5 linked regions of the Homo sapiens genome follow. The protein of the gene in region 3 purifies or fractionates together with the protein of the main gene of each other region. This does not show direct contact. Each region holds a gene or a part of one and is shown on either strand. Other genes may lie near its edges.

The links.
Region 1: the proteins of ODAD3 (region 3) and IFT81 purify together in Homo sapiens (affinity purification with mass spectrometry; 3 studies listed by BioGRID and IntAct, with this or other methods). This does not show direct contact.
Region 2: the proteins of ODAD3 (region 3) and IFT74 purify together in Homo sapiens (affinity purification with mass spectrometry; 3 studies listed by BioGRID and IntAct, with this or other methods). This does not show direct contact.
Region 4: the proteins of ODAD3 (region 3) and NEURL4 purify together in Homo sapiens (affinity purification with mass spectrometry, with the first as the bait; one large-scale study listed by BioGRID). This does not show direct contact.
Region 5: the proteins of ODAD3 (region 3) and IFT46 purify together in Homo sapiens (affinity purification with mass spectrometry; 3 studies listed by BioGRID and IntAct, with this or other methods). This does not show direct contact.

Annotation. Positions count from the first base shown.
Region 1 is NC_000012.12:110,139,861-110,146,325, reverse strand, and holds part of IFT81 (intraflagellar transport protein 81 homolog), read right to left. Parts: intron 2,945-6,465; coding exon 2,781-2,944; intron 1-2,780. UniProt on the Homo sapiens protein: Component of the intraflagellar transport (IFT) complex B: together with IFT74, forms a tubulin-binding module that specifically mediates transport of tubulin within the cilium. Binds tubulin via its CH (calponin-homology)-like region.
Region 2 is NC_000009.12:26,961,627-26,968,091, reverse strand, and holds part of IFT74 (intraflagellar transport protein 74 homolog), read right to left. Parts: intron 6,144-6,465; 5' UTR 6,125-6,143; coding exon 6,005-6,124; intron 1-6,004. UniProt on the Homo sapiens protein: Component of the intraflagellar transport (IFT) complex B: together with IFT81, forms a tubulin-binding module that specifically mediates transport of tubulin within the cilium. Binds beta-tubulin via its basic region. Required for ciliogenesis.
Region 3 is NC_000019.10:11,421,351-11,426,823, forward strand, and holds part of ODAD3 (outer dynein arm-docking complex subunit 3), read right to left. Parts: intron 5,435-5,473; coding exon 5,333-5,434; intron 5,222-5,332; coding exon 5,096-5,221; intron 4,917-5,095; coding exon 4,794-4,916; intron 2,680-4,793; coding exon 2,527-2,679; intron 1,512-2,526; coding exon 1,351-1,511; intron 1,278-1,350; coding exon 1,121-1,277; intron 483-1,120; coding exon 327-482; intron 1-326. UniProt on the Homo sapiens protein: Component of the outer dynein arm-docking complex (ODA-DC) that mediates outer dynein arms (ODA) binding onto the doublet microtubule. Involved in mediating assembly of both ODAs and their axonemal docking complex onto ciliary microtubules.
Region 4 is NC_000017.11:7,318,834-7,325,298, forward strand, and holds part of NEURL4 (neuralized-like protein 4), read right to left. Parts: coding exon 6,376-6,465; intron 6,148-6,375; coding exon 5,966-6,147; intron 5,648-5,965; coding exon 5,562-5,647; intron 5,438-5,561; coding exon 5,275-5,437; intron 5,180-5,274; coding exon 4,981-5,179; intron 4,891-4,980; coding exon 4,814-4,890; intron 4,731-4,813; coding exon 4,652-4,730; intron 4,291-4,651; coding exon 4,115-4,290; intron 4,034-4,114; coding exon 3,902-4,033; intron 3,178-3,901; coding exon 3,032-3,177; intron 2,955-3,031; coding exon 2,727-2,954; intron 2,627-2,726; coding exon 2,528-2,626; intron 2,441-2,527; coding exon 2,279-2,440; intron 2,091-2,278; coding exon 1,926-2,090; intron 376-1,925; coding exon 217-375; intron 1-216. UniProt on the Homo sapiens protein: Promotes CCP110 ubiquitination and proteasome-dependent degradation. By counteracting accumulation of CP110, maintains normal centriolar homeostasis and preventing formation of ectopic microtubular organizing centers.
Region 5 is NC_000011.10:118,550,013-118,556,477, reverse strand, and holds part of IFT46 (intraflagellar transport protein 46 homolog), read left to right. Parts: intron 1-1,155; coding exon 1,156-1,230; intron 1,231-1,394; coding exon 1,395-1,488; intron 1,489-1,890; coding exon 1,891-2,019; intron 2,020-4,142; coding exon 4,143-4,264; intron 4,265-4,625; coding exon 4,626-4,692; intron 4,693-6,465. UniProt on the Homo sapiens protein: Forms part of a complex involved in intraflagellar transport (IFT), the bi-directional movement of particles required for the assembly, maintenance and functioning of primary cilia. May play a role in chondrocyte maturation and skeletogenesis.

The sequences.
Region 1 (6,465 bases), on a different chromosome or scaffold from region 3:
AATAATCTGTGATTCTTCGATAACTATCATTTATCCTAATCATTAATCTAAATCTTTCCAAAATGTAATAAAACTGAATAAATCTGACAGAAGCATATAGTTCCTCAACATATCAAAACAAAAACCATGGTTTTCAGTGTATCCATCCTTTGAAAGATTAGAGTTCTCTCTAACCCTAACCCTAATTCTGTGACATTAAATTTTAGCCAGATTAGGCCGGGCACGGTGGCTCACATCTGTAATTGAAGCACTTTGGGAGGCTGAGGCGGGTGCATCATCTGAGGTCAGGAGGTCGAGACCAGCCTGGCCAACATGGTGAAACCCCGTCTCTACTAAAAATACAAAAAATTAGCTGGGCTTGGTGGCATGCACCTGTAGTCCTGGCTACTCCAGGGGCTGAGACAGGAGAATCACTTGAACCCAGGAGGTGGAGGTTGCAGTGAGCCGAGATCGCACCACTGGACTCCAGCCTGGGTGACAGAGTGAGACTCCATCTCAAAAACAAAACAAAACAAAACAAAACAAAATTTTAGCCAGATCTGACTTGGACATTTAATTTTTCTAAGTAAATTAAAAGAATAAAACAGTCAGGCCTGGGCGCGGTGGCTCACACCTGTAATCCCAGCACTTTGGGAGGCTGAGGTGGGTGGATCACAAGGTCAGGAGTTAGAGACTAGCCTGGCCAACACAGTGAAACCCCATCTCTACTAAAAATACAAAAATTAGCTGGGCATGGTGGCAGGTGCCTGTAATTCCAGCTACTGGGGAGGCTGAGGCAGAATTCACTTGAATCCAGGAGGCAGAGGTTGCAGTGAGCCGGGATCACGCCACTGTACTCCAGCCTGGGCAACAGAGCTACACTCCATCTCAAAAAAAAAAAAACAAAAAAAACCAAAACAGTCAGAATTATGTATTTAATTGTAGTGGCTATTAACCACATAGTAAGCACACTAAAGAATTAGCAAGTCAAAACATTTCAATTAGGCTGAGTGCAATGGCTCACACCTGTAATCCCTGCACTTTGGGAGACTGAGGTGGACGGAGGCAGGCAGATCTCTTGAATCTGGGAGGTCAAGACCATGCTGGGCAACATGGCCAGACCCTGTCTGTACAAAAAATTCAAAAATTGGCCAGAACTGGTGGCATGCACCTTGTAGTCCCAGCTACTTGGGAAGCTCAGGTGGAGGATCACTTGAGCCTGGGAGATGGAGGCTGCAGTGAGCTGTGATCATGTCACTGAACTCCAGCCTAGGTGACAGTGTGAGACTCCGTGTAAAAAAAAAAAAAAAAAAAAAAATTAGGCATAGTGGTGTGCGCCTGTAATCCCAGCTAGTCGAGAGGCTGAGGTAGAAGAATCGCTTGAACCCAGAAGGTGGAGGTTGCAGTGAGCTGAGATTGTGCCACTGCACTCCAGCCTGGGCAACAGAGCAAGTTCCGTCAAAAAAAAAAAAAAAAAAAAAAAGGCACTGCACCTGACCTAGCATTTTAATTCTAGGGAACAAAAATGGTATAATCAGGCCAAGCACAGTGGCTCACACCTGTAATCCCAGCACTTTGGGAGGCTGAGGCGGGCAGATCACCTGAGGTCAGGAGTTCAAGACCAGCCTGGACAAATGGCAAAACCCCGTCTCTACTAAAAATAAAAAAATTGGCCAGGCATGGTGGCACATATCTGTAGTCCCAGCTACTTGGGAGGCTGAGGCAGGAGAATGGCTTGAACCCGGGAGGCAGAGGTTGCAGGGAGCTGAGATCTCACCACTGCACTCCAGTCTAGGCAACAGAGCAAGACTCCGTCTCAAAAAACAAAACAAGTCCTGGTGCGGTGGCTCATGCCTGTAATCCCAGCACTTTGGGAGGCTGAGATGGGTGGATCACAAGGTCAGGAGTTTGAGACCAGCATGACCAACACGGTGAAACCCTGTCTCTACTACAAATACAAAAATTAGCCAGGCGTGGTGGCGCGTGCCTGTAATCCCAGCTACTCAGGAGGCTGAGGCAGGAGAATCGCTTGAACTCGGGAAGCGGAGGTTGTAGTGAGCCGAGATCACGCTACTGCACTCCAGCCTGGGCAACAGAACGAGACTCTGTCTCAAAAAAAAACAAAAAACAAAACAACAACAACAAAAACAACAACAACAACAAAAAATTAGCCGGGCATGGTGGTTCGTGCCTGTAATCCCAGCTAGTTGGGAGGCTGAGGCTGGATAATCACTTGAACCCAGGAGGCAGAGGTTGCAGTGAGCTGAGAAGATTGTGCCACTGTACTCTAGCCTGGGCAACAGAGCAAGTACTGTCTCAAAAAAAAAAAAAAAAAAAAAGGTATAACCTGATACCAGCTTTCAATAAGCATTACAATATTTAGTAATTCCAAGGCAGGTATACAAGGTTAATAAAAATATTAGCTTTAAATATAAAATTGCTATAATATTTTGCTTGGAAATAAAAATTAATGACAATTAAAATATTTCCAAATTTCCCATCTAAATGCTTACATTATGAAGACATAAACCCACTGGTCAATTCATATGCATTAATTTACATATTTAAGTTACTTCATTTGCTAATCAATTGATTATGTTTTCATAACATCATGTGGATTAAGTAATAGCATAACATTCTATAATTCCTCATAAAGGACAATTCCTCATAAGAGTTGTCAACTCTTAGCACAGGTTAATTTAAGAGTCAATAGTGGGATACTACAGAAAGCAGTTCACATAATTTTATAGGACTGGGGATCAGATAAAATTGAGAGCTATAAAAAGATGATTCTCACTTACTTTAGATTCAAGTTCAAGAAGATCAGAATGGCCCATAGCTGGCTCTGAAACTACTTTTTGTAAAAAATGTAATTCCTTTTTCTTATTTTCTAATTCTTTAGGAAATTTTTCAGTTACCATATATAAATTAAATTTTATCTCCTCCTCTAGCCTCTTCATTAAACCTTTAAAAATAAAATAAATAAATATTCAGCCCAAAAGAGTAGGTACAGTGATATTCTGTATACTATTTTAAATATAAGACCTGGATACGGCATATTTGTTGAAAACAAACTGTATAATATATAGCATAGTACAATAAAAGATTGGCCATTGAAATATTTTATTGTTAATTACAATGAAAATGAAGAAACATAATTTACATGGAAGAATATTTAAATAATTATAGAAAAAGTGCTATTATGACCCTTTCAAATTATAACCTAATTCTTTTATATCCCGCAATACGCAAAAATAACATGTGCTGAGCCAGATACATTGTTGGGTCATATTTTACCTTCTAAGCATTTAAGAGACCCATGAACCAAATGATAACACAAATAAAATCTAACCCAGGTGCTCTTTTATACAGATGATCATGTATTTTTTTTCTTTTGGAATACTTTTAATGCTATATATATACATATGTATTTTTTATTTTTTTGAGATAGGGTCTTGCTCTGTCACCCAGGCTAGAGTGTAGTGGCACTATCTCAGCTCACTGCAACCTAAACCTTCACAGCTCAAGTGATCCTCCCACCTTAGCCTCCTGAGTAGCTGGAAGTAGCTGGCATCACAGGTGTACATCACCACGCCTAGGTAATTTTTGTATTTTTTTTTGTAGAGACGAGGTTTTGCCATGTTGCCCAGGCTGGTCTCTAACTCCTGGGCTTGAGCAGTCACCTGCCTCAGCCTCTCAAAGTGCTGGGATTACAGGTGTGATCCCAGCCTCTCAAAGTTCTGGGATTACACTGTACCCAGAACAATTTATATTTCTATTATAACAGTTCATAAATGATAATTCATTATCATTTGTCAGCTTCAAGCCAATGAAGACATTACTAAAAGCACCACAAGTTAAAATCTAAAAAAGAGTAACAGGCCAGGTGCAGTGGCTCACGCCTGTAATTCCAGCACTTTGGGAGGCCGAGGTGGGTGGATCACCTAGGTCTAGAGTTCGAGAGCAGCCTGGGCAACATGGCAAAACCCTGTCTCTACTAACAATACAAAAATTAGCCGGGCATGGTGGCACATGCCTGTAGTCTCAGCTACTTGGGAGGCTGAGGAACAAGGATCGCTTGAACCTGGGAGGAAGAGGATGCACTGAGCCAAGATCGTGTCACCATCACTGCACTCCAGCCTGGGGGATAGAGGGAGACTCTGTCTCAAAAAAACAAAAGAAAAAAGAAACAAAGTATCTACCTACACATAAATGTTTTAAGTTTTCCATGTTTTGGTATTTTTTATTTTGTAAAGTATTATTAGTTTACAGTTAAGTGGCAATTTATATTTTTAAGATTTTAGTTTTCTTATTTTTGCAGTTGGACAACTATACACACAGATTTTCAGTGAATAACCATCTTGTTTTAAATTCCCAGCCTAGAGAGATTTACAAAGTTTATTTCATATCTTTCCATTTACACATTTACAAATTCTGACTTGAATGTTTTTTGTTTTTTGTTTTAGATGAAATCTTGCTCTGTCACTCAGGCTGGAGTGCAGTGGTGCATTCTGGGTTCACTGCATCCTCTGTCTGCCTCCTGGGTTCAAGCGATTCTCCTGCCTCAGCCTCCTGAGTAGCTGGAATTAGTCGCACACTACCAGCTCGGCTAATTTTTTGTATTTTTAGTAGAGACAGGGTTTCACCATGTTAAGGCCAGGCTGGTCTGCAACTCCTGACCTCAAGTGATCCGCCTGCCTGGGCCTCCCAAAGTGCTGGGATTACATGCGTGAGCCACTTCGTCTGGCCTGGCTCAAATTTTTAACACATGGGCTTTCTGGTTTAAGTAATCTGTGTAATAGATTGCATAATACATCTGGCCCAAAGCATAATACATCTGGCCCAAAGCCTTAAAACTATTTTTAGTTCCATCGTGCTAACCATATATTAACATGTAAAATTTTATTAACTGCAAATTCTAAGTTTTCCATTCATTACTTCACTATTCCTTCTTTTTTCAGGATTAGAGAAAGGAAGAGAAGAGAAAGTGTTTAATAAATCACACTGTAGGCTGGGCGTGGTGTCTCACACCTGTAATCCCAGCACTTTGAGAGGCCAAGGCAGGCGAATCACCTGAGGTTGGGAGTTTGAGACCAGCCTGACCAACATGGAGAAACCCCATCTCTACTAAATATACAAAAAATTAGCCGGGCATGGTGACCCATGCCTGTAATCCCAGCTACTCTGGAGGCTGTAGAGATGCTTGAGGTAGGAGATTCGTTTGAACCCGGGAGGCAGAGGTTGCGGTGAGCCAAGATCATGCCATTGCACTCTAGCCTGGGCAACAAGAGCAAAACTCCGTCTCAGAAAATAAAAAATAGGCCAGGCGTGGTGGCTCATGCCTGTAATCCCAGCACTTTGGGAGGCTGAGGCGGGCGGATCACCTGAGGTCAGGAGTTTGAGACCAGCTTGACCAACATGGAGAAACCCCGTCTCTACTAAAAAAATATACAAAATTAGCCGGGCGTGGTGGCATATGCCTGTAATCCCAGCTACTTGGGAGGCTGAGGCAGGAGAATGGCTTGAACCTGGGAGGCGGAGGTTGCAGTGAGCCAAGATCACGCCATTGCACTCCAGCCTGGGCAACAGGAGTGAAACTCCATCTCAAAAAATAAATAAATAAGTAAATAAACAATAAAAATAAATAAATCACACTGTAATTAGTCAGTCATTCCTATGTGGTTTTCGATTAAATCTACATCCTGACTTCTTTGTCTGTTAGATGACCAGCTTTTCCATCCTCAGGTTCTTAAGTGTACCCCATGTAATTAGAGATGCATGGAATCAAAGACTAAAATGTTTTTAAAGATTTAAAATTCTCAAATAATATTTTCTCTATTTAAAAAAAAGTTTCTAATTCTAGCAAATATAAACTGATTTATAGTGACAGAAAGCAAATCCATGGTTGCCTGGGGAGGGACAGAAAGGCAGAAGGGGGCAAGAGTGAGACATTAAAAAGGGTCAGTGGAAATGTCTGGGGTGATGGATAGGTTTGTGATCTTGATTAAAAGCTGATGGTTTCACCAGTGTATGCGTATGTCAAAAGTAATCAAGGATACACTTTAGGGCATGGGAGGAAAGGGGAAGAGCATTCAGACAAATACTTAATGTGTGCGGAGCTTAAAACCTAGATGACAGGTTGATAGGTGCAGCAAACCACCATGGCACATGTATACTTATGTAGCAAACCTGCATATTCAGCACATGTAACCCAAAACTTAAAGTAAAATTAAAAAAAAAAATTTAATACATTTTAAATATGTGCTACTTATTTATTTATTGAGACAAAGTCTTACTCTGTCACCTAGGCTGGAGTGCAGTGGCACAATCATAGCTCACTTTAACCTCAAACTCTTGGGCTCAAGTGATCTTCCTGCCTCAGGCTCCTGGACAGCTAGGACTATCGGCATGTACCACCATGCCCAGCTAATTTTTTATTTTTTATTTTATTTTATTTTATTTTATTTTATTTTATTTTATATTTTA
Region 2 (6,465 bases), on a different chromosome or scaffold from region 3:
TCCTGATTAAAAAAAAAAAAAAAAAGACAAGACATATGAAGAAAACAGAAAACTATAGGCCAATATCCCTGATGAACATTGGTGCAAAAATCCTCAACAAAGTACCAGCAAACTGAATTAAACAACACATTAAAAAGATCATTTGTCATGACTCACTGGTATTTACCCCAGGTAACTAAAGATAGTTCAACATGTGCAAATCAATCAATGTGATAAATCATACCATCAGACTGAAGGACAAAAGCCTTCCGTTGATATTGTAAAAGCATTTGATGACATTTAACATCTCCTGATGATCAAAATCCTCAAAAAACCAGGTATAGAAGGAACATATCTAAATACAATAAAAGCTATATATGACAGATCCACAGCTAGTATCCTATGGAATGAGGAAAAACTGAAAGCCTTTCCTCTAAGATCTAGAACACAACAAGGATGCCCACTTTCACCACTGTTATTCAACACAGTACTGGAATTCCTGGCTAGAGCAATCAGACAACAAAAAGAAATAAAGGGCATCCAAACTGGAAAGGAAGAAGTCAAATTAACTCTGTTTGCAGATGATATGATCTTATATTTGGAAAAACCTAAAGACTCCACCAAAAAAACTATCTGAACTGATAAATAGTAAATTCAGTAAAACTCAGAAAAATTGCAGGATACAAAAATCAATAGCATTTCTATATGCTAACAGGGAACAACATGAAAAAAATCAAGAAAGTTATCCCATTTACAATAGCTACAAATAAAATAAAATACCTAGGAATTAACCCAAGAAGTGAAAGATCTCTACAATGAAAACTATAAAACACTGATGCAATGAACTGAAGAGAACAACAAAAAATAGAAAGATATTCCATGTTCATGGATTGGAAGAATCAACATTGTCAAAATATCCAGAATATCCAAATTAATCTACAAATTCAATGCAATCCTTGTCAAAATATCAATGACATTCTTCTCAAAAATAGAAAAAAAAATCCTAAAATTTATATAGAACCATAAAAGATCTAGGATAGCCAAACCCATCCTGAATTAAAAAAAAAAGGAAAAGAAAAAGAAAAGCATACTGGCATAAAAACAGAATAGAGAACCCAGAAATAAATCCATATATCTAGAGTGAACACATTTTTGACAAAGATGCAAGGAACATACACTGAGGAAATGCCAGTTTCTTCAATAAATGGTACTGGGAGAACTGGATATCCATAGACAAAAGAATGAAACTAGACCCATATCTCTCACCATATACAAGAATCAAATCAAAATGGATTAAAGACTTAAGACCTCAAACTATGAAACTACTAAAAGAAAACACAGGGGAAATTATCCAGAACATTGGTCTAAGCAAAGATTTCTTGAGTAATATCCCACAAGCAAAGGAAACCAAAGCAAAAATGAACAAATAGAATCACATCAAGTTAAAAAGCACCTGCACAGCAAACAATCAACAAAGTGAAGGGACAACCAACATAATAGGAGAAAATATATGAAAACTATTCATCTGACAAGAAATTAATAAACAGAATATATAAGGTGCTCCAACAACTCACTAGCAAAAAAATCTAATAATACAATAAAAAACGGGCAAAAGGTCTGAATAGACAACTTCTCAAAAGAAGATATACAAACGTCAAACAGGTATACGAAAAGGTGCTCAACATCACTGATCATCAGAGAAATGCAAATCAAAACTACAGTGAGATATCATCTCACTCCAGTTAAAACGACTTTTATCCAAAAGAAAGGCAATAGCAAATGCTGACAAATATATAAAGAAAAGGGAACCTTTGTACAGTGTTGGGGGGAATGTAAGTTAGTATAACTACTATGGAGAACAGTATGGAAGTTCCTCAAAAAACTAAAAATAGAACTATCATATGATCCAGCAATCCCACTGCAAAAGGAAAGAAATCATTATTTCAAAAAGATACCTGCATTCCTATGTTTATCACACTACTTGCCACAATAGCGAATATATGAAAAAAAAACCTGACTGTCCATCAATGGAGATGGAGGGCTACGTAAAGAAAATGTGGTATACATGTATATACATATATATACACACACACATATACACATATATATATATACACATACTATGAAACACTACTCTGCCATAATAAAGAAATCATGTCTTTTGCAGCAATATGGTTGGAACCAGAGGCCATGATCCTAAGTGAAACAATTCAGAAAGAGAAAGTCAAATACCGCATGTTCTCACTTATAAGTGGGAGCTAAACAATGGGTACATACGGACATACAGAGTGAGATAACAGACACTAAAGATTACAAAAGATGAGTGGGAGGAAGGTGAGGGTTGCTAAATTACATATTGGGTACAGTGTTCACTATTCAGGTGATGGGTACACTAAAAGCCCACACTTCATCATTACATAATATATGCATGTAAGACAACTGACCTACCCCATGAATACATACAAATTTTAAAATTTTACAAATAAACAGATAACGTGCCTGGCAAATAGTAGGTGGCCAATAAATGTCAGATTCTTTTTATAAATATTTAATTATCAATTTTTACTGGAATAAAAGAAAAAGATACCCTTACTATCCTATGTATGAAGACTTCAGAAAAATTATTTCAGTCTAAGTTGATGACGATGTCCTAATATTATTACCTGAAACTCTAGAAAAAAAATCTGAAAACTTTAGGAAAATCTGACTTTAACAAAATTATTCCCTCCAAAAAATGCTGCTCTTCTTATGAGTTAACCATAGGACCCAACATTATCTGTAGTTTGCACTTAGCCTACTGTAGGAGGTTGAGTATTGGCCCTCTGCACCTTCTCAGTTGAAATCACCTGTGTGAAAATCAGATAAATTTATGGACATTTTTGTCTATTCATTTATTTCCATTTCAATTCTATGTATTTATAAATTTATGTTTTCTATGTTAAATTGATATCACTTTTAAACTTTTGTTAAAGTATATTATTTTCTGAAATATCTTGAAAGTAGTTTGTAATGACTATCTAACAGCCTTTATAGGGATATACATATCATTATTTAAGATTCACCTGTTGTAAGTCTTCTAGGTTGTTTCCCAATTTTTACATTATAATGATAACGAAAATGTAATAATTATCTTTACAGGATATCCTTCTGCTTAGAATATCAACTCATAAACTTCATCTAACTTTTCCTCATATGATGTGTTTCTCTTATTCACTATTTATGACACACTCTCTTATATTAAGCTCTTTAACATTTACTAGAGTTTACCTCCAGGTGCCGTGGCAATCAGAATATTGTTTCACTCATTGTCTATAACATATTTTACATTAGAGTACTGTACTTTTTCTTATTTTTGTGGTATTGTTCTAGATGAGTTTTAGAATAGTTTTATAATATTACCCCTAGCATCAAAAGAAATGTCATGAAATTTTGATTGGACATAAGGCTTGTGGTCTTAATACAGAAAGAGCACTTAAAAATTAGTAAAGTTTACAACAAATGGAAGAACATTCCATGCTCACGGGTAGGAAGAATCAATATCATGAAAATGGCCATACTGCCCAAGGTAATTTATAGATTCAATGCCATCCCCATCAAGCTACCAATGACTTTCTTCACAGAATTGGAAAAAACTACTTTAAAGTTCATATGGAACCAAAAAAGAGCCCGCATCGCCAAGTCAATACTAAGCCAAAAGAACAAAGCTGGAGGCATCACACTACCTGACTTCAAACTATACTACAAGGCTACAGTAACCAAAACAGCATGGTACTGGTACCAAAACAGAGATATAGATCAATGGAACAGAACAGAGCCCTCAGAAATAACGCCGTATATCTACAACTATCTGATCTTTGACAAACCTGAGAAAAACAAGCAATGGGGAAAGGATTCCCTATTTAATAAATGGTGCTGGGAAAACTGGCTAGCCATATGTAGAAAGCTGAAACTGGATCCCTTCCTTACACCTTATACAAAAATCAATTCAAGATGGATTAAAGACTTAAACGTTAGACCTAAAACCATAAAAACCCTAGAAGAAAACCTAGGCATTACCATTCAGGACATAGGCATGGGCAAGGACTTCATGTCTAAAACACCAAAAGCAATGGCAACAAAAGCCAAAATTGACAAATGGGATCTCATTAAACTAAAGAGCTTCTGCACAGCAAAAGAAACTACCATCAGAGTGAACACGCAACCTACAAAATGGGAGAACATTTTCGCAACCTACTCATCTGACAAAGGGCTAATATCCAGAATCTATCTACAATGAACTCCAACAAATTTACAAGAAAAAAACAAACAACCCCATCAAAAAGTGGGCGAAAGACATCAACCGACACTTCCCAAAAGAAGACATTTATGCAGCCAAAAAACACATGAAACAATGCTCATCATCACTGGCCATCAGAGAAATGCAAGTCAAAACCACAATGAGACACCATCTCACACCAGTTAGAATGGCGATCATTAAAAAGTCAGGAAACAACAGGTGCTGGAGAGGATGTGGAGAAATAGGAACACTTTTACACTGTTGGTGGGACTGTAAACTAGTTCAACCATTGTGGAAGTCAGTGTGGCGATTCCTCAGGGATCTAGAACTGGAAATACCATTTGACCCAGCCATCCCATTACTGGGTATATACCCAAAGGACTATAAATCATGCTGCTATAAAGACACATGCACACGTATGTTTATTGCGGCATTATTCACAATAGCAAAGACTTGGAACCAACCCAAATGTCCAACAATGATAGACTGGATTAAGAAAATGTGGCACATATACACCATGGAATACCATGCAATCATAAAAAATGATGAGTTCATGTCCTTTGTAGGGACATGGATGAAATTGGAAATCATCATTCTCAGTAAACTACCGCAAGAACAAAAAACCAAACACCGCATATTCTCACTCATAGGTGGGAATTGAACAATGAGATCACATGGACACAGGAAGGGGAATATCACACTCTGGGGACTGTTGTGGGGTGCGGGGAGAGAGGAGGGATAGCATCGGGAGATACACCTAATGCTAGATGACGAGTTAGTGGGTGCAGCACACCAGCATGGCACATGTATACATATGTAACTAACCTGCACAATGTGCACATGTACCCTAAAACTTAAAGTATAACAAAAAAATAAAAATAAAAAAAAGAAAAAAAGAAAAAAAAAAAAATTAGTAAAGTTTACCTTTTAATTTTAAGATTCTGATCCTATATATGGTATATATATTATAAATGTTTTTACCAGTTGTCATTTCTAATTTTTTATGGTGTTTTATTTTTTGTAAATTCAGATATATAATAAAAATATTTTCCTTTTCAGTACTTGTTATTTCTGTCATGTTTAGAAAGCCTAGCCCATATCAAGTTTATACAGAATACTTGCCAACATTTTCCTCTACTACATTTATGGTTTCATTTTTGAAATACCAAGTTTCTAAGCTATGTAGAATTCTGATAAAAGGTATAAGAGAGGATTAAAAATACTTTTAAACAAATGGTTTAACAATTATTGGAATGTTCTATTGAATGCTCCATGTTTTGCCAACTAATTTGAAACACACATTAATCATTAACTAAATTCTTATATGCTTGATTCTATTTGAGGTCTATTCCATTTCATTTTATTCTGGCCCCAATACACTATTCAACTAAAATTATTGCAGCTTTAAATTGAGTATCTGCAGGAGCAGGCATCTTCTTCCCAGAGTGTCTTTCAAACACTCTTCCACATTTACATTTCCAGATGCTTTCCAAAAAACAAAACAAACATGTTTAATAATATGCTTATGAAATAAAGAAACAACAAAGTAGAATCTCTTATTACAGAGGGGATTTCCAACTTCTACCACAATATATGCACAAGCATTCAACAGATTTTTGAGACAGTCTCAAAAACTCAAAAACTGGGGTGCAGTGGCATGATCAGAGTTCACTGAAGCCCCAGTCTCCTGGACTCAAGTGGTCCTCCCACCTTGGCCTCCCAAAGTAAATAGATTTGTTTCAAACTTACTGCAGTTGCCACTCGAATATTTCCTGATAGGGGTCGTATCCCAGAAGGAGGCCTTCCTGTTAACCCAACTCCACCTCTTGAAACAGGGCGAGCTGCTGAAGATTTGTGATTGCTGGCCATTGTTTCTTCACTTTAATCGCTGTTTGGAAACAATAAATAGTTCAATCCTTTGATGTCTTCTCTAGCAAGACAATAATGACCCATCATACCCTTACATTTAATTCACAACAATTGTTCTTGCAAACTGCCGTTCTGTGTACCACTACAAGGCTAATTTTGTTCAAATATGACATCGTGCTCCATTTACAACTATGAGATTGTTTCTTGCAACATTCCTTCCTCATCTTTCTATTATCTTACCAAAATGCAAGCCCCTCTATTATCTATTTCTTTAGTATTCTCATCCCATACTCTGGTAAATTTTCTCTCCCATCATAGCCAACATCTTTCTTTGCCCCTAA
Region 3 (5,473 bases):
TTAAGCAGGCACCTTGATACCCAGCTTCACCCCCTCATCACTCAGGTCCGCCCCTGGTCTCTGGGGCCCTGCCACTAGGCCTCTCCCCATCCGGATACCCCAGCCGCGTCCTCTAGCCTCACAGGACCCGCCTGCACCTCTTCTGGTTTCTTCCCTCGTGGCTCGGGCTCACCCCTGGCTCGTCAAACCTCGCCCGTTGTCCCCGAGACCCCTTCCTGGCTGATCAGCCTGCAATCTGGTCTCCCGAAGTTGCCCCCGGTTCCCTGGTTTTCCGACCCAGCCCTACTCCTAGATCTCTGGAGCTCTGCCCCATGGCTGCAGGGCACCTCGCGGTTAGCGATGTGGCACAGCATCTCCTGCACGTCGTGGCCCTGGAGCTGCGCCTGCAGTTTCAGCAGCTTTTCCTCCACGAGGCCCAGCAGGTTTGGCACATAGTTATCTGCCTGGGGATCCAGCTCCTTTCCCGCGAAGCGGCCGTCCTCCTGCGGCCAGGGTAGAGCCGGGTCAGCCGAGAGGGGTGGGGCCTCTTGGAAGGCTCCACCCAGGGGCGGGGCTTTTCTTTCGGGGGCGGGGCCTAGGAGGTAAGGGCCCACCTGCAGGGTCGATCCTAGCCATTGGGGGCGGGGACTTAGGTCAAGGCCACGTCTGTGATGGGGGAGCCTCTGAACTCTAACTCTATATGTAAAGGTTTCGGGGAGGCCTCTTGGGAACAGTAAGGATTCGAGGGAGGCCATTGTGGGATGGCCTCCTGAAGAAATGGCCCTCTGCTGCGGGCAGGATAGGTCTTCTGTCTCGGGCTGCTCCAGAACTGCAGATAGGTCTCCGAGCTTTTCGGGGACAGGGTGGGACTTCTTTCCCTTGGAGGCGGAGCTTGAGACGGGACAGGGTCTCTGACGTCTTGGGCTTCCTTGGGGAGTGAGAGCTTCCCCAGGGAGGTGGGGCGGGGACTCTGAGGAATGGGGTGGGGCTTCCCCTGTGGGCGGGGCCTCTGACGTCCGGGACAGAGGATGTGGCAGGCCACGTTCCCTCGGGCAAGCTGGTGTGGCAGGAACCCCGCTTCGTGGCTGCGCCTCTGCGGTCCCAGGAGGGCCTGTCGGGGCTTCCCCTGGGCGGGGCCTACCACAGTGATGTGGATCAGCTTGCTGGCCAGGTGCTCCAGGCTGTCCTTGGCCACTTGCATCGCCCGCAAGGCGCGCTCCAGCTGGTCCTTGGCCTCGGCGTGCCGCCGCTCCTCCTTCTTGAGACGCTCCTGCGCCTCGGCTTGCAGTTTCTGCTGGCTGCAGGGAGCCGGGAGGTCACCCCGGGGGCTCAGCCCGCCCCGCCGCCCTCCCCAGAGCCCCGGTGCCTCACCTCACCAGCGTGGCCTCCCCCGAGTACTTGAGGTCTTCCAGCTCCCGCTGCAGTTGTTGCTTCTCCTGCTTCAGCCTCACCAACGTCTGCTCGTTCTCGCTCTTGAGCGTCTCCAACTGCGCGAAGGTGTCGCCCTGGGCCAGGAACCGCCGCACCAACGACTGCGGGCCACCCAGCCCCAGTCAGAGCCAGGGCCTAGGGAGCGTAGGGGCGCTCCACCTCCTCTCCCCCACCCTGCGAACCCTCGCACGCAGGACAGGTGGCCTGAGCTGGCGCCTTTTGCACAGCAATGTATGGGGACACTGTGGGTTGGACGCAGGGTTGCTTCAAGGGTGAGCAGCCCTGGATATATCATTTTTGCGGGGCCCTTTCTGGCCTATATAAGGAATTTGAGTCAGCCCAAACTCGGGGGCAACTGGAGAGGCGAGCATAGCTTCTTTCCAAAATCAAAGTGCCATCAATTTCTGGCCGTGAATCTCGCCCGATTCCGCAGGAAATACCGCCCGTCTTCGGAGCCATCCGCTCACAAGGCCCACATCTGGAAAGGGGCTGCGCCTCAGTGCCCCAGATGACCCCATAGGTGTACTCCTATAGGTGGGAGTCCCGGAAGTCATCAGGGGTCGGCCCCATCGGAGGAGCAGCAGGTTGGCGGACACCCAGAGGGGAGAAACAGGGTTGGGGTCCAGTGTTCACCGGCGGGAACCAGGACCCAAGGGGGACACAGCGGTCTTAGAATAATGCAAGGAAGACTTTACAGTGAGGGACCCGGCGCAGGGACCCCACTTGCCAGGATCTGAGGATGGTACTGGGCGGTCCACTGGGTCCCAGACCATGTTACAGACACTGGAGACAGAACAAGAGACGAAACTCCCAGTTCTCCTAGAGCTGGCATGGCAAAGGAGTTAGCATGGTGCAAGAGAGAACGGAAGGCGAGTGTAGAAATGACGGCGAGTGTAGACAGCTCCTAGGGGTTTTGCTGCGAAGGGCAGCAGAAAAACTGAACGGTAGCTGGAGGGGGAAGGGATGTTTTTCAAGAAAGGAGCAGGTTTGTGAGCTGAATAACCGACCTGGCAGAGAGGGGAGACAGGGTGTGTCGGTTTCACCGGCTTAGGCACCCCTGGGGCCCGTCTGGGGTGGGGGGGGGGCGCGGCGGAGAGGGCTGCGGGCAGAACTCACGTGCGTCTCGTCAGTGCCAGTGGCGTCCTTGACCTTGCCAAAGATCACCTCCATCTGGTACATGCTCCAGCGCTGCCGCAGCTCCTCCTCCTTGGCATGCAGGCTGTCCTGGATGGTGTCGTCGGACTGTAGCAGCAGGTGCTCGCGGTGGGTCTGCTCGTGGGTTGAGGTCAGAGCCAGGGTCAGCTGGTGGACAGCGCTTGGGAAGGAGGCCGGGGAGGGGGATCCAGATAGGGGCCCGCGAGGAACAGGGCTCAAACTGGAGGGAAGGGAGAGGGCAAAAGCTTGGGGCCAGATAAAGGCACCCGGGCAGGTGTCAAGAAAGTGGGACAAGGTCGGGCGCGGGGGCGGTGGCTGTGGCTCACGCCTTTAATTCCAGTACTTTAGGAGGCTGAGGCGGGAGGATTGTTTGAGCCCAGGGGTTCGGGACCAGCTTGGACAACACGGCGAGACCCCGTCTCTACAAAAAACACCAAAATTAGCAGGGCGTGGTGGGGCGCCTGAAGTCCCAGCTACTTGGGAGGCTGAGGTGAGAGGATCACTTGAGCCCAGGAGGTCGAGACTGCAGTGAGCTATAATTAGTCTGAGCGACAGAGACCGTGTCTCAAAAAAAAATCCATATATATATGTATATATGTATATATATGTATATATGTATATATGTGTATATATACCTATGTGTATATATGTATATATGTGTATATATACCTATGTGTATAAATATATATGTGTATATATACCTATGTGTATATATGTATATATGTGTATATATACCTATGTGTATATATGTATATATGTGTATATATACCTATGTGTATATATGTATATATGTGTATATATACCTATGTGTATATATGTATATATGTGTATATATACCTATGTGTATATATGTATATATGTGTATATATACCTATGTGTATATATGTATATATGTGTATATATACCTATGTGTATATATGTATATATGTGTATATATACCTATGTGTATATATGTATATATGTGTATATATACCTATGTGTATATATGTATATATGTGTATATGTACCTATGTGTATATATGTATATATGTGTATATGTACATATGTGTATATATGTATATATGTGTATATGTACATATGTGTATATGTATATATGTGTATATATACATATGTGCATATATACATATGTGTATATATGTGTATATGTGTATATATGTATATGTGTATATGTACATATGTGTATATATGTATATATGTGTATATGTACATATGTGTATATGTGTATATGTACATATGTATATATACATATGTGTATATGTACATATGTGTATATATACATATGTGTATGTGTACATATGTGTATATATGTGTGTATATGTACATATGTGTATATATGTATATGTACATATGTGTATATGTGTGTATATGTACATATGTGTATATATGTGTATGTGTACATATGTGTATATGTACATATGTGTATATATGTATATATGTGTATATGTACATATGTGTATATATGTGTGTATGTACATATGTGTATATGTATATATACATATATGTGTATATACACATATGTGTATATGTATATATACATATATGTGTGTGTATATATGTATATATGTGTGTATATATGTATATATGTATATATGTGTGTATATATGTATATATGTATATATGTGTGTATGTATGTATATATGTATATATGTGTGTATGTATGTATATATGTATGTATATGTGTATATATGTGTGTGTATATATGCATATATGCATATATGTATATATATGTATATACGTATATATATATATATATATGCAAAAAAAACCTATCAAACAACAACTACAACAACAACAACCCAAAAAACAAAAAGGCAGGACAGGGCTTTGGTGAGGGCTGGATGGGAGGCAGCCTCAGGGCAGGTGCAGGGGCGGGGCCAAGAGTGAGGGGGCAGGGCCTTAGGCAACGGTTGGCTCAGAGGCACGGTCAGATTCAGGACAGGCAGTCTAGTCAGGTGGGAAAGGATGGGTAGGGGGGTCACTGAGTAAGGGGAAGGCTGGAGGCCATGTCAGAGCCAAAATGGTGCAGTCGCTTAGGAGGGGAGGGGAGGAGAGGCGGGGTCAGGGATGTGGGAGGGGTCTTCGCACCAAGTGGGGGTGGAGTCAGAGAGGGGGCGGGGTTAGGAGAAACAGAAAATGGGAGAAGGCCTAGGATGAGGGAGAGCCAGGGCATGGCTGGTTTGTGCTGGGCTGGGCTGGAGTCACAGGCGCGCACCCCTGGGTGCGCCCACCTTGCGCTCCATGCGCTCGTTCTCCAGTTTCTTCTCCTCGGCGCGCTTCTTGCACTCACTTATGTAGCGTTCCCGCTTCTTGCGCTCTCGAACCAAGGTCTCCTCTAGGTACTGCAGCTGGTTCTGGAGGGCGGGCAGGGTAGCAGGGAGACCAGCTGGCACCTACCACTGCCCGCCGCAGGGTGCTGGGAGATAGATGGGGGCGGGGGCGTAGGGGAAGCTCAGGGACAGCTGAGGTCAGATTCTCAAGCTGGGAGACCGCGGCAGCTGGGCAGGATGGCCGAGGGCAAGAGGGGTGGCACCTTGGCAATGTCCCGGGCATTGAGGGCCTCTTGGTTCACCACGTGCAGTGCCTCCAGCTCATGTTTGGTCCTCACCACCTCAGCCTCCATGGAGTCCAGCCGGTTCTCCAAGTTGAGGCTCTCGTCCTGGGGCGTGGTGGGGAGGGGTAGCGGAGATGGTGCAGGTCTGTGACTGCTGTCCCTAGCCAAGCCCGCCCTCCCTGTTTGTCATCTCACCCGAGCCCTCCTAGTCCCTACCATTAGATAGGCCTTGAGCTGCAGGTACACGCTGGTAATGTGCTCGGCCTCCTGCGCCTTCATCTGGGCCTTCTCCAGGCGGTTCTCCAGGTTCCGCATGGTCTGGAGAGCAGCAGGGCTGGGCTGAGGGCCCTCCGCACT
Region 4 (6,465 bases), on a different chromosome or scaffold from region 3:
TCCCCAAAACTGGCACATTCTCAATGGCAGGGACACCGCAGGAAGCAGCAGGCCTAAGACTGACCAGGCAATGCTACTCGCCCTTGCCTGCCCATTACTGTTCCCCTTTTACACCTGTGGTCCTACCTCCAAGGCTAGGGGCCCACTTCTCCCTTCTGGCCAGCCCTTCTCTACTCACAGGCCTGGTCCTGTTCCTTCTCTCTGGCTCCTACTCACCTTGAGACCGTTGTGGAAGACCCCACGGCCCCGCAGCAGCCAGGCTGCCCGTTTGAGGGCACAGGCAGAAGCAGGGAAGTTGAGCCTCTCAGGCGCGCAGGTGATGACTCCCAGGACAAGGGAAGATGTCCACTGTCGGTTTAGGAAATCTATCCGCACCTGGGGAAGAAAGAACTACTCCATAATCACAGCCTCCTGGGAAGAACCAGGCTCCGCACCCCAGCCAGAGAGGGAATACTGCACCTCCCAGAATGTGGCCTGGGATGCTGCCTTTTCTTATGCTTGGAAGGACCAGAAAACGCTAATTTAGTTGTTTCTTTCCCTCTTTTTTTTTTTTTTTTTTTTTTTTTTTTTAAAAAAAAGAACCGCCAGCCGGGCATGGTGACCCACACTGTAATCCCAGCACTTTGGGAGGCTGAGGTGGGTGGATCACCTGAGGTCAGGAGTTTGAGACCAGCCTGACCAACATGGTGAAACTCCGTCTCTACTAAAAATACAAAATTAGCCGGGCGTAGTGTCATATGCCTGTAGTCCCAGCTACTTGGGAGGCTGAGGCAGAAGAATCGCTTGAACCCGGGAGGTGGAGGTTGCGGTGAGCCGAGATCATACCATTGCACTCTAGCCTGGGCGACAAGAGCTAAACTCCGTCTCAAAAAAAACAAAAAAACAAAAAAACAAAAAAAAAACATGCTGTTTGAGCCTTGACCTTGCTGTTGCCTCTGTAAGGATCTCTAAGGATTCTTATTCCTAGGACTTCCTTCACCTAGCTAGTTTTCTTTTCCTTTCTTTTTTTTTATTGAGACGGAGTCTCGCTCTGTTGCCCAGGCTGGAGTGCAGCGGTGCGATCTCGGCTCACTGCAAGCTCCGCCTCCTGGGTTCAAGCCATTCTCCTGCCTCAGCCTCCCGAGTAGCTGGGACTACAGGCGCCCGCCACCACGCCCGGCTAATTTTTTGTATTTTTTAGTAGAGACGGGGTTTCACCGTGTTAGCCAGGATGGTCTTGATCTCCTGATCTCGTGATCTGCCCGCCTCGGCCTTCCAAAGTGTTGCGATTACAGGCATGAGCCACTGAGCCTGGCCTTTTTTTCTTTTTTTTTTTAAGATACAAGGTCTTGCTCTATCTCCCAGGCTAGAGTGCGGTGGCGTGATCTCGGCTTACTGTAACCTCTGCCTCCCAGGTTCAAGTGATCCTCCCACCTCAGCCTCCCGAGTAGCTGGGATTACAGGCTCGTGCCACCATGCCTGGAGAATTTTTGTATTTTTTTTGTAGAGACAGAGTTTCACTATATTGCCTAGGCTGGTCGCGAACTCGTGAGCTCAAGCGATCCGCCTGCCTTGGCCTCCAAAAGTTCTGGGATTACAGGTATGAGCCACCGCACCCGGGCTCAGCTGGCTAACTTTCACATATCTTTCAGTTTGTAGCAAAAAGGCACCTTCTTCTGGAAAGCCCTCTCTGCTCCCACATATAGGATCAGGCATTTCTCTTGGACTCCTCCAGCCTGTCCCTACTGCTTCCCTCACCAATCACCAGGTAGGGACTTCGTGGTAACTGACTGATGACCCTCATTACAGGCTATGAATAAAAGCCTAGGAAGCTCATCCAAGTGGCTTGCTTTCTTTTTCTCCACACAAAAAGGCCTTTTTTCAGGGGGGTTGGCCATGGGTCACTGTGGAGCGAGAGAAGCTGGGGATAGGGAGGGAGAACCCACCTGCACCAGCAGCTGGGGCACCAGAGGTTGGTTGATGACAACGATGCCCTGATTGTAGCTGGCCACCCGTGTGGCCGTACGGTTCCCATTAGACAAAAGGATATTCTTCCCATGGTTCTCCAGGAACTCGAGGGTGGTGGGTATAATACCCACTTCATTCTGGCCCTGGTGTGGAGGAAGGGACTGAGCTGCATGGGTTGCCAATGCCAGGACTGACCCACCCCACTGGAGTTTGCACAGATCCTGAGTGTGAGCCTCCACCCAACGATCAGAGAACCCAGAAAAGGCCTGGCATCCAACGGCCCAGCAACTGCCCATCCATGTGCACAGCAGACCATGCTGCAGCCTCTTACTCCCAGGCCATGCTCCTCGCCCTCGTCATCCTCCTCGCCCTCACTGCCGGTGTCTGAACTGGGGGAAGGAGGCTGGGTGCCTTCTGACTCCTCCAGTCTCGTGGAACTGACAATTGACACACCGCGGACTGGCCCGTAGAGATCCAACACAGCCCACACGTTCTGGGAGGCACACAAGACCCAGAAAATCAGAGATCAGCAGAAGACCTCAACCATCCTCCCAGAACCCAAGGAAGCGTTCAGGTCTACCTTGGCAATGCCAGTGGCTGCAGGCCCCATATCCTCTCCATCCACCAGGATGTGCATCGTGTCATCTGCCCCCCGACGAACACCCACACGGCTCCCCACCTAGGACCGAGGTAGGACAAGGACGGACGATGTTCAGCCCACCTCTCCCTGCCACCTCCACTCCCAACCCCTCCCCTGTCCCTGGAGCCAGCCACTTCACCCCCAGCCTCTCTAGGTTCCGGCCATAGTTCATCCTCTGGAGCTGCCCATCACGCCTCACTTCACAGCTGGATACCATCCAAGTGGTCTTCGTCCGGAGCTCTGGCAGGGAAGGAGGCAGCCCTGGGCCACCACCGCCTGCCCCGGGTCCCATCTCCCCCGGTGCTAGTGTGGTCAGCCCCAGCCGCAGGGAACCTGCCCACTTCTCATCTAGCTCTTCCACTTTCACCTACGAGACAGAGAAAACATAAGCTGGCCCTGTCGTGATGGGCCTCGCAGCCCCTCTGTCACATCACTACGGCCTACCTCAAAGACTTCCTCAGCCCTCAGCTCCTTGGTACTGAAGACAAGGCCATGAGCATAGCCAGCGGCACGCACTGCCCTCGTGCCATCCTCCTCTAGAGTGACGTTCTTGCCGCAAGTACTGTGGAATCGGTGAGCCACGCCAGCCACTGTGAAGAGATGGCACCAGTAGAAGGGGTAGGATTGGGGCAGCGAGCTTCAGGCAGAACACAGAGCAAAGCTTTCAGATGAAACGAAATGGGGATGCCAACGCCCCATCTGCCATCTGCCATTACACCTCAGGGCCTCCTGACACCTCTTTATTGTATTTTGTTGAGGCAGAGTCTCGCTCTGTCACTCAGGCTGGAGTGCAGGGGCACAGTCGTGGCTCACTGCAGCCTCGACTTCCTGGGATCCAGCTATCCTCCCACCTCAGCCTCTCAAGTAGCTGGGACCACAGGTGCATGCCACCACACCTGCCTACATTTTGTATTTTTGGTACAGACGGGGTTTCGCCATGTTTCCCAGGCTGGTCTCAAACTCTTGTGCTCGAGAGATCCACCTGCCTTGAACTCCCAAAGTGCTGGGATTACAGGCGTGAGCTACTGCGCCCGGCCCTGATACCTCTTTTCACCACAGCAAGGCCCATTTCCAAACCTGGCATGCTCAGCTTATGGTGTCCTGGCCCCTTGGTGGCAGGGAAGTGTCCAGGCTCTAAGTACCAGGTGTAACCTCCCCCTCACTGGCTGCTTGCCACCGTGGGCTGTCCCTTCCCTGGAGCCGGCAGCTACCCCAGCCAACCGTCTTTGCAGAACCTCTCTAACCTGGAAACCCTACTCCTCAGGTGCACAGCAGGCAAGCAGAGCCCGTCCAGCCCCCGCCCTGCTGCCGCACCTGGGGAGTGCAGTGGGAAGGACTTCTCGGTGGCAGTGTTGCTGGTCGCCAGGCTGTTGTCCATGGGGCCGGTGGCATTGGTGATGGACACTTGGACACACTGGCCATAGAGATCGACTACCGCATACACCTCTGGGGAGGAGAGGGAAGGTCAGAAGCCTGACAGCCAGGTGGTCTGGGCTGAGGGTGGCAGGCTGAAAGCCACATAGTCACCTTTACCCGGAGGCAGGCCCGAGCAGGCAGCGCCTTGGTCCTGGCCGTTGATGAAGTAGTGCAGGTCGCCCTTGGCAGTTCGCATCATGCCAATGCGTGCACCTGTGCCCAGCGCATCCAGGTCACACCCATAATTGTTGCGCATCGTGTTACCGTCTTGCATGATGGCTGTACCACTGGGGGGATGGCAGAAGGGGTGAGTCAGCCTGCCAACTTCAACTTCACATTGGCCCCTGCCCACTCCCTGTCTGTCAGAACCCTCCAATGTCTTGGGCTGGTGTCTTGATCTGGGTGTAAGGCCCAATCCTATCTCCTCTGTCCCTGGGATCCCCTTAGGAAAAAGCAAGAACTGCCTAAGATGAAGGAGGACTGAGCCCCTGTGGGCCTGGGCAGGACTTCCCAGAATTCAAGGGGAGGGGACAGGTAGATCCCCTAGGTCTGTCACTACCCACAGCCACCATAGGCCCAAACCTTGCTTCCCTGATCCCAGCCAGCTCCACTCAGCCCCAAGCTGGTCCCCAAAGCAGGAAGCCCAACCTCAGCATCCATGTGTCATAGTCAATGTCTGTCATGGTGTTGGGGAATTCCAGGTCTTCAGGCCGAATAGCAGTCACTCCTGGGAGGAGGCAGGGGTAAGTCAAGGCCGATCCCCAAGGCACAGACATCCAACAGCCCCCAACACACACAGACGGCCCTCACCAGCCTCAATGGAGCCTGACCAGCGGTCCACCATCTTCTGAATGACAATTTCAAACAGCTCTCCATCCCGCAGGGCCCTGCCAGGAGACTGGCGATCAGAGAGGCTCTACTTGCATGGCTGAGGCTGGGCAGGAGGAAGGTGGGGACATGAAAGTTGAGAGACTGACCGGTTGGAGATGACGATGGCGTCATTAAACTCGCTGCGACAGTTGTGGCGGAGGGCGGTGCGGCCCCCGTTAGTGATGACTGCGTTACTGCCGTGCAGCTGATGGAAGCGCAGGTCAGAGCCCCCGGCCCCTGAGGACGGAGAGCTTGGAGACACCTGGTTGTTCCCCTCAGGGAGTGGTTCAGGAACTGGAGCCACCTCTGTAAAAGTGGACATCACCCATCAGGTCTCTAGGTGTCTCTCAGACCTCCCAAGGCCACCCTAACCCCCAGCCCCAGCCCAGCCCGGCCCTCACCCACGTCGTCCACAATGGTGGCCTGGGCCGCCTGGCCATAGAGATCGACGACAGCATAGACGCCCGGGGGCACGTTCCAGGCAGCAGGGCCCTGAGTCATCCCATTGACAAAGAAGTGGAGAGTCCCGTCCTCCCGCCGTACCACGCCCACCGTGTCCCCTGCCTTGGAAGAAGGGGGTGCTGGAGTGAGGAGTCAGGCAGAGTTCCTGCCGGGGCTGGTCCTGCATCAGCCCCGCGGTGTTTGTGATGCCCGCTGCGGCCGCCAGGCGGCGCACCCACTTTCCCACCTTGAGGCGGTCCAGATTGTGCCCGTATTCATCCAGGATGGTCGTCCCATTGTGCATCACCCCATTCCCAGTCATCATCCAGGTCCCTGGGAGGACAAGGAGCAGGAGGGGACATGAGGGGAAATGCAGGGCTCCTCTCCTTGCCACAGCAGCGCCCACAGGACTCCCGAGCCCACAGTCCACCTTGCCTTTTCTTTGATGACTAGATTTCTTCCCTGAGCAGGACAAGAAAACTCTGCAGCTTCCAAGACAGCCACAGCCCTGCCCACGGGACACTCTCTAGCCACTGAATGAGTGGTCACAAGAGTGACAAGTGAAAAAGGAGCTGCAGAACAAGTGCCAGGGCTTTGGGGATAGCTTCCCCCCAAAACCCTATCCTGTCCCTGCCCTTCCTGGGAGCTCACCAGAGCGCAAGTTGGTCATGGTGGAGGGCAACTGGAGGTAGGCAGGGTTGTGGGTGGTGACACCAATTTCAATGGAGCCAGCCCATTTGTCCACCATCTTGTCGATGCGCACCTGGAACACCTCTCCATCCCGCAGGGCTCTGCTGCTCAGCACCACGCCGTGATTGAAGTCATCGGTGGCACTGAGGGCACAGCAAGTGGAGAGTCAGATCCCCAACACACGCTCTCAATGTGCCAAGGCTTAGCCCAGCAATGCCTGCCAACACTCACTGCCCCAAGCCAAAGAACTAAAGCTCAACCTCCAGGAAGCTGCCCCCGCCAGGCTCCCTCTGCCTTCCACTTCCTTGCCCCGCCCCCCCCCCCCCATTAGAATCCCTTCTTCAGGCTTCTCCCCACCCCATGGGCCATACTGGGGCCTCAGGGCAGTGCGTCCCTCGTGGGTGATGGCTGCCTTCTGCCCACAGTTGGGGTGGAAGAGCAGGCGCTCAGGTTCTGCCTGG
Region 5 (6,465 bases), on a different chromosome or scaffold from region 3:
TCTATCGCCCAGGCTGGAGTGCAGTGGCGTGATCTCGGCTCACTGCAAGCTCCGCCTCCTGGGTTCACGCCATTCTCCTGCCTCAGCCTCCTGAGTAGCTGGGACTACAGGTGCCCGCCACCACGCCCAGCTAATTTTTTTTGTATTTTTAATAGAGACGAGGTTTCACCGTGTTAGCCAGGATGGTCTCGATCTCCTGACCTCGTGATCCGCTCGCCTCGGCCTCCCAAAGTGCTGGGATTACAGGCGTGAGCCACTGCACCCGGCCGCCCAAAAATTTTTTAAAAATTAGCTGAGCATGCTGGTGTGTGCCCATAGTCCCGGCTGCTCGGGAGGCTGAGGCAGGAGAATCACTTGAGCTCAGGAGTTTGAGACTGCAATGAGCTATGATCGGGTCACTGCACTCCAACCTGGTCAACAGAGTGAGACCCTGTCTCAAAAATAAATTAATTAAATTTAAAAAATAATAATAACACTGCTAAAAACACTTCTATAATTTTTTTTTTCTGGTGCAAACTATTTTCATGTCAGATATTTAAATCTCTTTTTTTTTTTGAGACAGAGTCTTGCTTTGTCACCCAGGCTGGAGTGCAGTGGTGCGATCTTGGCTCACTGCAACCTCTGCCTTCCAGGTTCAAGTGATTCTTCTGCCTCAGCCTCCTGAGTAGCTGCGACTACAGGTGTGCACCACCACACCTGGCTAATTTTTGTATTTTCAGTAGAGATAGGGTTTCAACCATGTTGGCCAGGCTGGTCTTGAACTCCTGACCTCAGGTGATCCGCCTGCCTCGGCCTCCAAAAGTGCTGGGATTACAGGTGTGAGCCACCACGCCCAGCCCTAAAATCTCTTGTTCTACCTTTTCTTGTCATCCTTTCATTAAAAAAAAGGAAAACCATTTATGCTACATTTTAACATCAAAAAAATATTATGTTTTGGATTTTCTGCACCTCTGTCCTTCAGAGTCAGAGATAATTGAGAGTTAAGTACAATCAACCTTAAAGTTGCCTTGCAAGCCACCAGGAAAGGCAGATATTGGAGAGGCAGAAGCTAGCTTCAGGATCATGTCCCTATAGTCAGTAACACACCAGCACCTAGGACCCTGCCACCTCTGCTCTTCTCTGGCCACCTCGAACAAACTGTTTTCCTTTTCCCAGGGCCTATGACCCTGCAGACTATGAGCATTTGCCAGTTTCTGCTGAAATTAAGGAACTCTTCCAGTACATCAGTAGGTGAGTACTAGGACCTCCCACCATACCCCACTATCCCTACCTTGCCCCAAACCTTTCCTATCTCTAGTCTGAAACAGGGCCATTCCCCTTAGATTTTTTTTTAGCCTGAATAGTAAAGTAACTTTTTCTGACTGTCTCCACCTTCCCTTGGCAATATCTCCTAGGTACACACCTCAGTTGATTGACCTGGACCACAAACTGAAGCCTTTCATTCCTGATTTTATCCCAGCTGTCGGGGATATTGATGCATTCTTAAAGGTATAGTCAGTACATCCTGAAAATGACTCCTTAAGTGTTTCTTCTGATGCCCCTGTTACTCTTAACAGTTTCCCTAATTTCTTTGACTAGCATTGGCTAGTCATGTTCATTTCATTGGAGTTCTTAACCTTGCTCTCAACTCCAAATTACACTCATTGCTCTTAAGTAATACTTAATATCTCATTACACATTAACAGTTTGTCATGTATTTGCTTCCTAATTATCTATGACAACAGGTTCATATTTAAGCTGCTATGGATAATATTTTTTTTCTGGATAGTATTGCGTACAGCATGATAAGCATGCTTTTAATACTAGTAATAATGATGAACCAGAAGTGTTCTTCCTCTTAACTTATTGGAAACATTTTCCTTTCTGCTTTCTTACCTTTTTCTTAACCAGGTCCCACGTCCTGATGGAAAGCCTGACAACCTTGGCCTATTGGTATTGGATGAACCTTCTACAAAGCAGTCAGACCCTACGGTGCTCTCACTCTGGTTAACAGAGAATTCTAAGCAGCACAACATCACAGTAAGATACTAGCTTAGTATAGGCCCCAGCTGGAGAGGGCCAAGAGTGGAGGAGGCCTTGCTGGCACTCATACAGTTGACTTACTGCCTGTCAAAAGAGATGGGCCTGGGTGCGGTGGCTCACGCCTGTAATCCCAGCACTTTGGGAGGCCGAGGCGGGTGGATCATGAGGTCAGGAGATCGAGACCATCCTGGCTTAACATGGTGAAACCCCGTCTCTACTAAAAATACAAAAAAAAAAATTAGCAGGGTGTAGTGGCGGGCGCCTGTAGTCCCAGCTACTCAGGAGGCTGAGACAGGAGAATGGTGTGAACCCGGGAGGCGGAGCTTGCAGTGAGTCGAGATCATGCCACTGCACTCCAGCCTGGGCAACAGAGCTAGACTCCATCTCAAAAAAAAAAAAAAAAGAGATGGTTATTGCTTTGGGCCAGCTCTATTTTTAAATGACAGCTTTATTTATATATAACTTAAATACCAGCAAGTTTAGCCTTTTAAATTGTACAACTTATTAGTTTTAATATAATCACAGTTTTGTAGCCATCACCACTACCTAATTTAGAATATTTCATCACCTCAAAAAGAAACTTCATACCCATTACTATTCACTCCTCATTCTCCCACTTCCTCCTAGACCCTGGTAATTATTTCATTCCTTTGTTATGGCTGAATAATATCCACTGTATGGATTTACCAGATTTGCTTTATTCATTCTCTAGTTCTGTCCACTCTTATTAATAATGGTGCTTTGAATATTTGTATACAAGTTTTTGTGTAGGTATATATTGTTATTCTGTTGGGTATATACATAGGAGTAGAATTGCTGGGCCATATGGAAACTCTATGTTTAGCCATTTGAAGAACTACCAAACTGTTTTCCAAAGTGGCTGTACCATTTTACATTCCCACCAGCAATGAATGAGAGTTCCAGTTTCTCTACATCCTCATCAATACTTTTTGTTTGTATTTTTCATTCTAACCATCCTAGTAGGTGTGAAATGGTATTTCTTTTTTTTTTTTTTTGAGACAGTTTTACTCTTGTTGCCCAGGCTGGAGTGCAATGGCGTGATCTTGGCTCACCACAACCTCCACCTCCCGGGTTCAAGCGATTTTCCTGCCTCAGCCTCCCGAGTAGCTGGGATTACAGGCATGCACCACCACGCCCAGCTGATTTTGTATTTTTAGTAGAGTCAGGGTTTCTCCATGTTGGTCAGGCTGGTCTCGAACTCCTGACCTCAGGTGATCCACCCACCTCGGCCTCCCAAAGTGCTGGGATTATAGGTGTGAGCCACCAAGCCCAGCCTAAATGGTATTTCATTATGGTCAGTCCTGCCATTTTGACCTGCTGCCTTTCCATGGCTTCAGCAAATTATTTTTTTTTGAGACAGGGTCTCGCTCTGTTACCCAGGCTGGAGTGCAGTGGTGTGATTGGGGCTCACTGTAGCCTCGATCTGCAAGCAATCCTGCTACCTCAGCCTCCCAAGTAGCCGGGACAGACCACAGGTGTGTGCCATCATGCCTGGCTAGGTTTTTTTTTTTTTTAATTTTTATTTTATAGAGGTAGGGTCTCCCTATGTTGTCTAGGCTGACCTCAAGTGATCCTCCTGCCTCAGCCTCCCAAAGTGCTAGGACTGCAGGTGTGAGCCACTGCACTTGGCTTTTTTTTTTTTTAAAGACAGGATCTCGCTCTTGCCTAGGCTGGAGTGCAGTGGCACAGTCGTAGCTCACTGCAACCTCAAACGCCTGGGCTCAAGTGATCCTCTTGCCTCAGCCTCTCAAGTAGCTGAGACCACAGGCACACACCACCATGCCTGGCTAATTTTTAAATTTTTAGTACAGACAAGGTCTCACTATGTTGCCCAGGCTGGTCTTGAACTCCTAGCCTCAACTGATCCTCCCACCTCAGACTGCCAAAGTGCTAGGATTACAAGTGTGACCGCCATGCCTGGCCTGGCTGCAGCAGATTTTATCAGGGTTTTCTATCCCCTTCATTTGGCTACTGTTTCACGTGGCAGCAGCTGTCATCAGCAAGCTCGAATATGAAACAGCAGCAGATATAATGAGACACTGTAAAAACAAGAGAGCTACTTCAGTGCCATCAGCTAGGCTTTCTCCTTACTTTCCTAGCAACATATGAAAGTAAAAAGCCTAGAAGATGCAGAAAAGAATCCCAAAGCCATTGACACGTGGATTGAGAGCATCTCTGAATTACACCGTTCTAAGCCCCCTGCGACTGTGCACTACACCAGGTAAGAAATACCACATTCTTTGCAACAGTAACACATAGTAACCTTCACTACCTGTGAACTGTTGCTCCTGAGAAGAGGCCCAGAGGCTGGGAACATATTTGATCAACCTGAGGTCCTGTGGATCCTGGCAACTACTGGCTGAGATTGTAGACATAAAGATTGTAATTTCTCTAGTATTACTTAGCTACCTCCTCCAAACCCCAGGCCCTGGGTAACTTTGGTATGCCCAGTCTAGGTTCTCCTGAAGCCTTCCTGATGTGCCAGATTGAAGACCTCTCCTTCATCCTAGAATATGCTGATCCAGAGGTTGCTGATGTTATCAGTTCACGTTTCTTGTTCATATTTACCTTTATACTTTTAGGCCCATGCCCGACATTGACACGCTGATGCAGGAATGGTCCCCGGAGTTTGAAGAGCTTTTGGGCAAGGTGAGTGGAAGGTAGCAGGAGGTAGGGTAAGAAAGTACAGTATTCGCTCCAGGGCCCAGTGTTTTTTCTCTTCCTCCATTATTATTATTGGTAACTTTTTTTTTTTTTTTTTTTTGAGACAGGGTCTTGCTCTTCCCAGGCTGCAGTGCAGTGGCATGATCATGGCTCACTGCAGCCTCTACCTCCCGGGCTCAAGTGACCCTCCCACCTCAGCCTTACCAGTAGCTGGGACCACAGGCATGCACCACCACACTCAGCCATTTTTTTAATTTTTGGTAGAGACGAGGTCTTGCTTTGTTGCCCAGGCTGTTCTCAAACTCCTGGGCTCAAGCAGTCCTCCTTCCTCAGCCTCCCAAAGTGCTGGGATTACAGGCATGAGCCACTCCACCCAGCGATCATTAATTTTTTTTGTTGAGATGGAGTCTCTCTCTGTCGCCCAGGCTGGAGTGCAGTGGCATGATCTCAGCTCACGGCAACCTCCACCTCCCAATTCAAGTGATTCTCCTGCCTCAGCCTCTCGAGTAGCTGGGATTACAGGTGCCTGCCACCATGCCACCATGCTAATTTTTGTATTTTAGTAGAGAAAGGGTTTCACCATGTTGGCCAGGCTGGTCTCGAATTCCTGACCTCAAGTGATCCGTCTGCCTTGGCCTCCCAAAGTGCTAGGATTTCATTAACTTTTTAATGGTAACACAGGAAACCCATGTATATGTGGTAATTTGATATATAAGAAAGATAGTTTTTTTTTTTTTTTTTTGAGGCAGTCTCACTCTGTTGCCCAAGCTGGAGTGCAGTGGCATGATCTTGGCTCACTGCAACCTCCGTACCCCCCGCAGGTTCAAGCAATTCTCCTGCCTCAGCCTCCCAAGTAGCTGGGATTACAGGCATCTGCCACTGTGCCTGGCTAATTTTTGTATTTTTAGTAGAGACGGGGTTTCACCATCTTGGCCAGGCTGGTCTTGAACTCCTGACCTCGTGATCCACCCGCCTCTGCCTCCCAAAGTGCTGGGATTATAGGCGTGAGCCACCGCGCCTGGCCAAGAAAGATAGTTTTTTAAATGATTGGTGATAGAATTAGGGTATAATGAGACAATTATTTGAAAAAAATTAAAGTAGGTTTCTGCCTCAACTGTATACATATGTGAATTTCAGATGAATTAAAGAGTTAATGTGGGCCGGGCACAGTGGCTCATGCCTGTAGTCCTATAATTTTGGGAGGCTGAGGCGTGAAGATTGCTTGAGCTCAGGACCAGCGTGGGCAGCATAAGGAAACTCTGTTTCCAAAAATAAACAAATAAATAAAAGAAGGGAAAAAAAGAGTTATTGTAAAAATAAAGCCATGTAAGTAATATAATAAAATATAGGAGATACAGAAGGAGCATGACTGAAAAAATAAATGAAATAAAATATAGGAGAAATTTAATTATCTCTTTTTAAAAAATTCAAGTGTCTTATAACTTAGGGAAATTTAATTCTATTAGGATAGTTAGGTGTTTCTCAGTGTAATAAGAAACTTAAAAGTCATATTGAGGCCGGGTGCAGTGGCTTAGGCCAGGCGCGGTGGCTCACACCTGTAATCCCAGCACTTTGGGAGGCCGAGGCAGGTAGATCACCTGAGGTCAAGAGTTTGAGACCAGCCTGGCCAACATGGCGAAACCCCATCTCTACTAAAAAAATACAAAAATTAGCTGGGTGTGGTGGTGTGTGCCTGTAATCCCAGCTACTTGGGAGGCTGAGGCAGGAGAATCACTTGAACCCAGGGGCAGAGGAGGG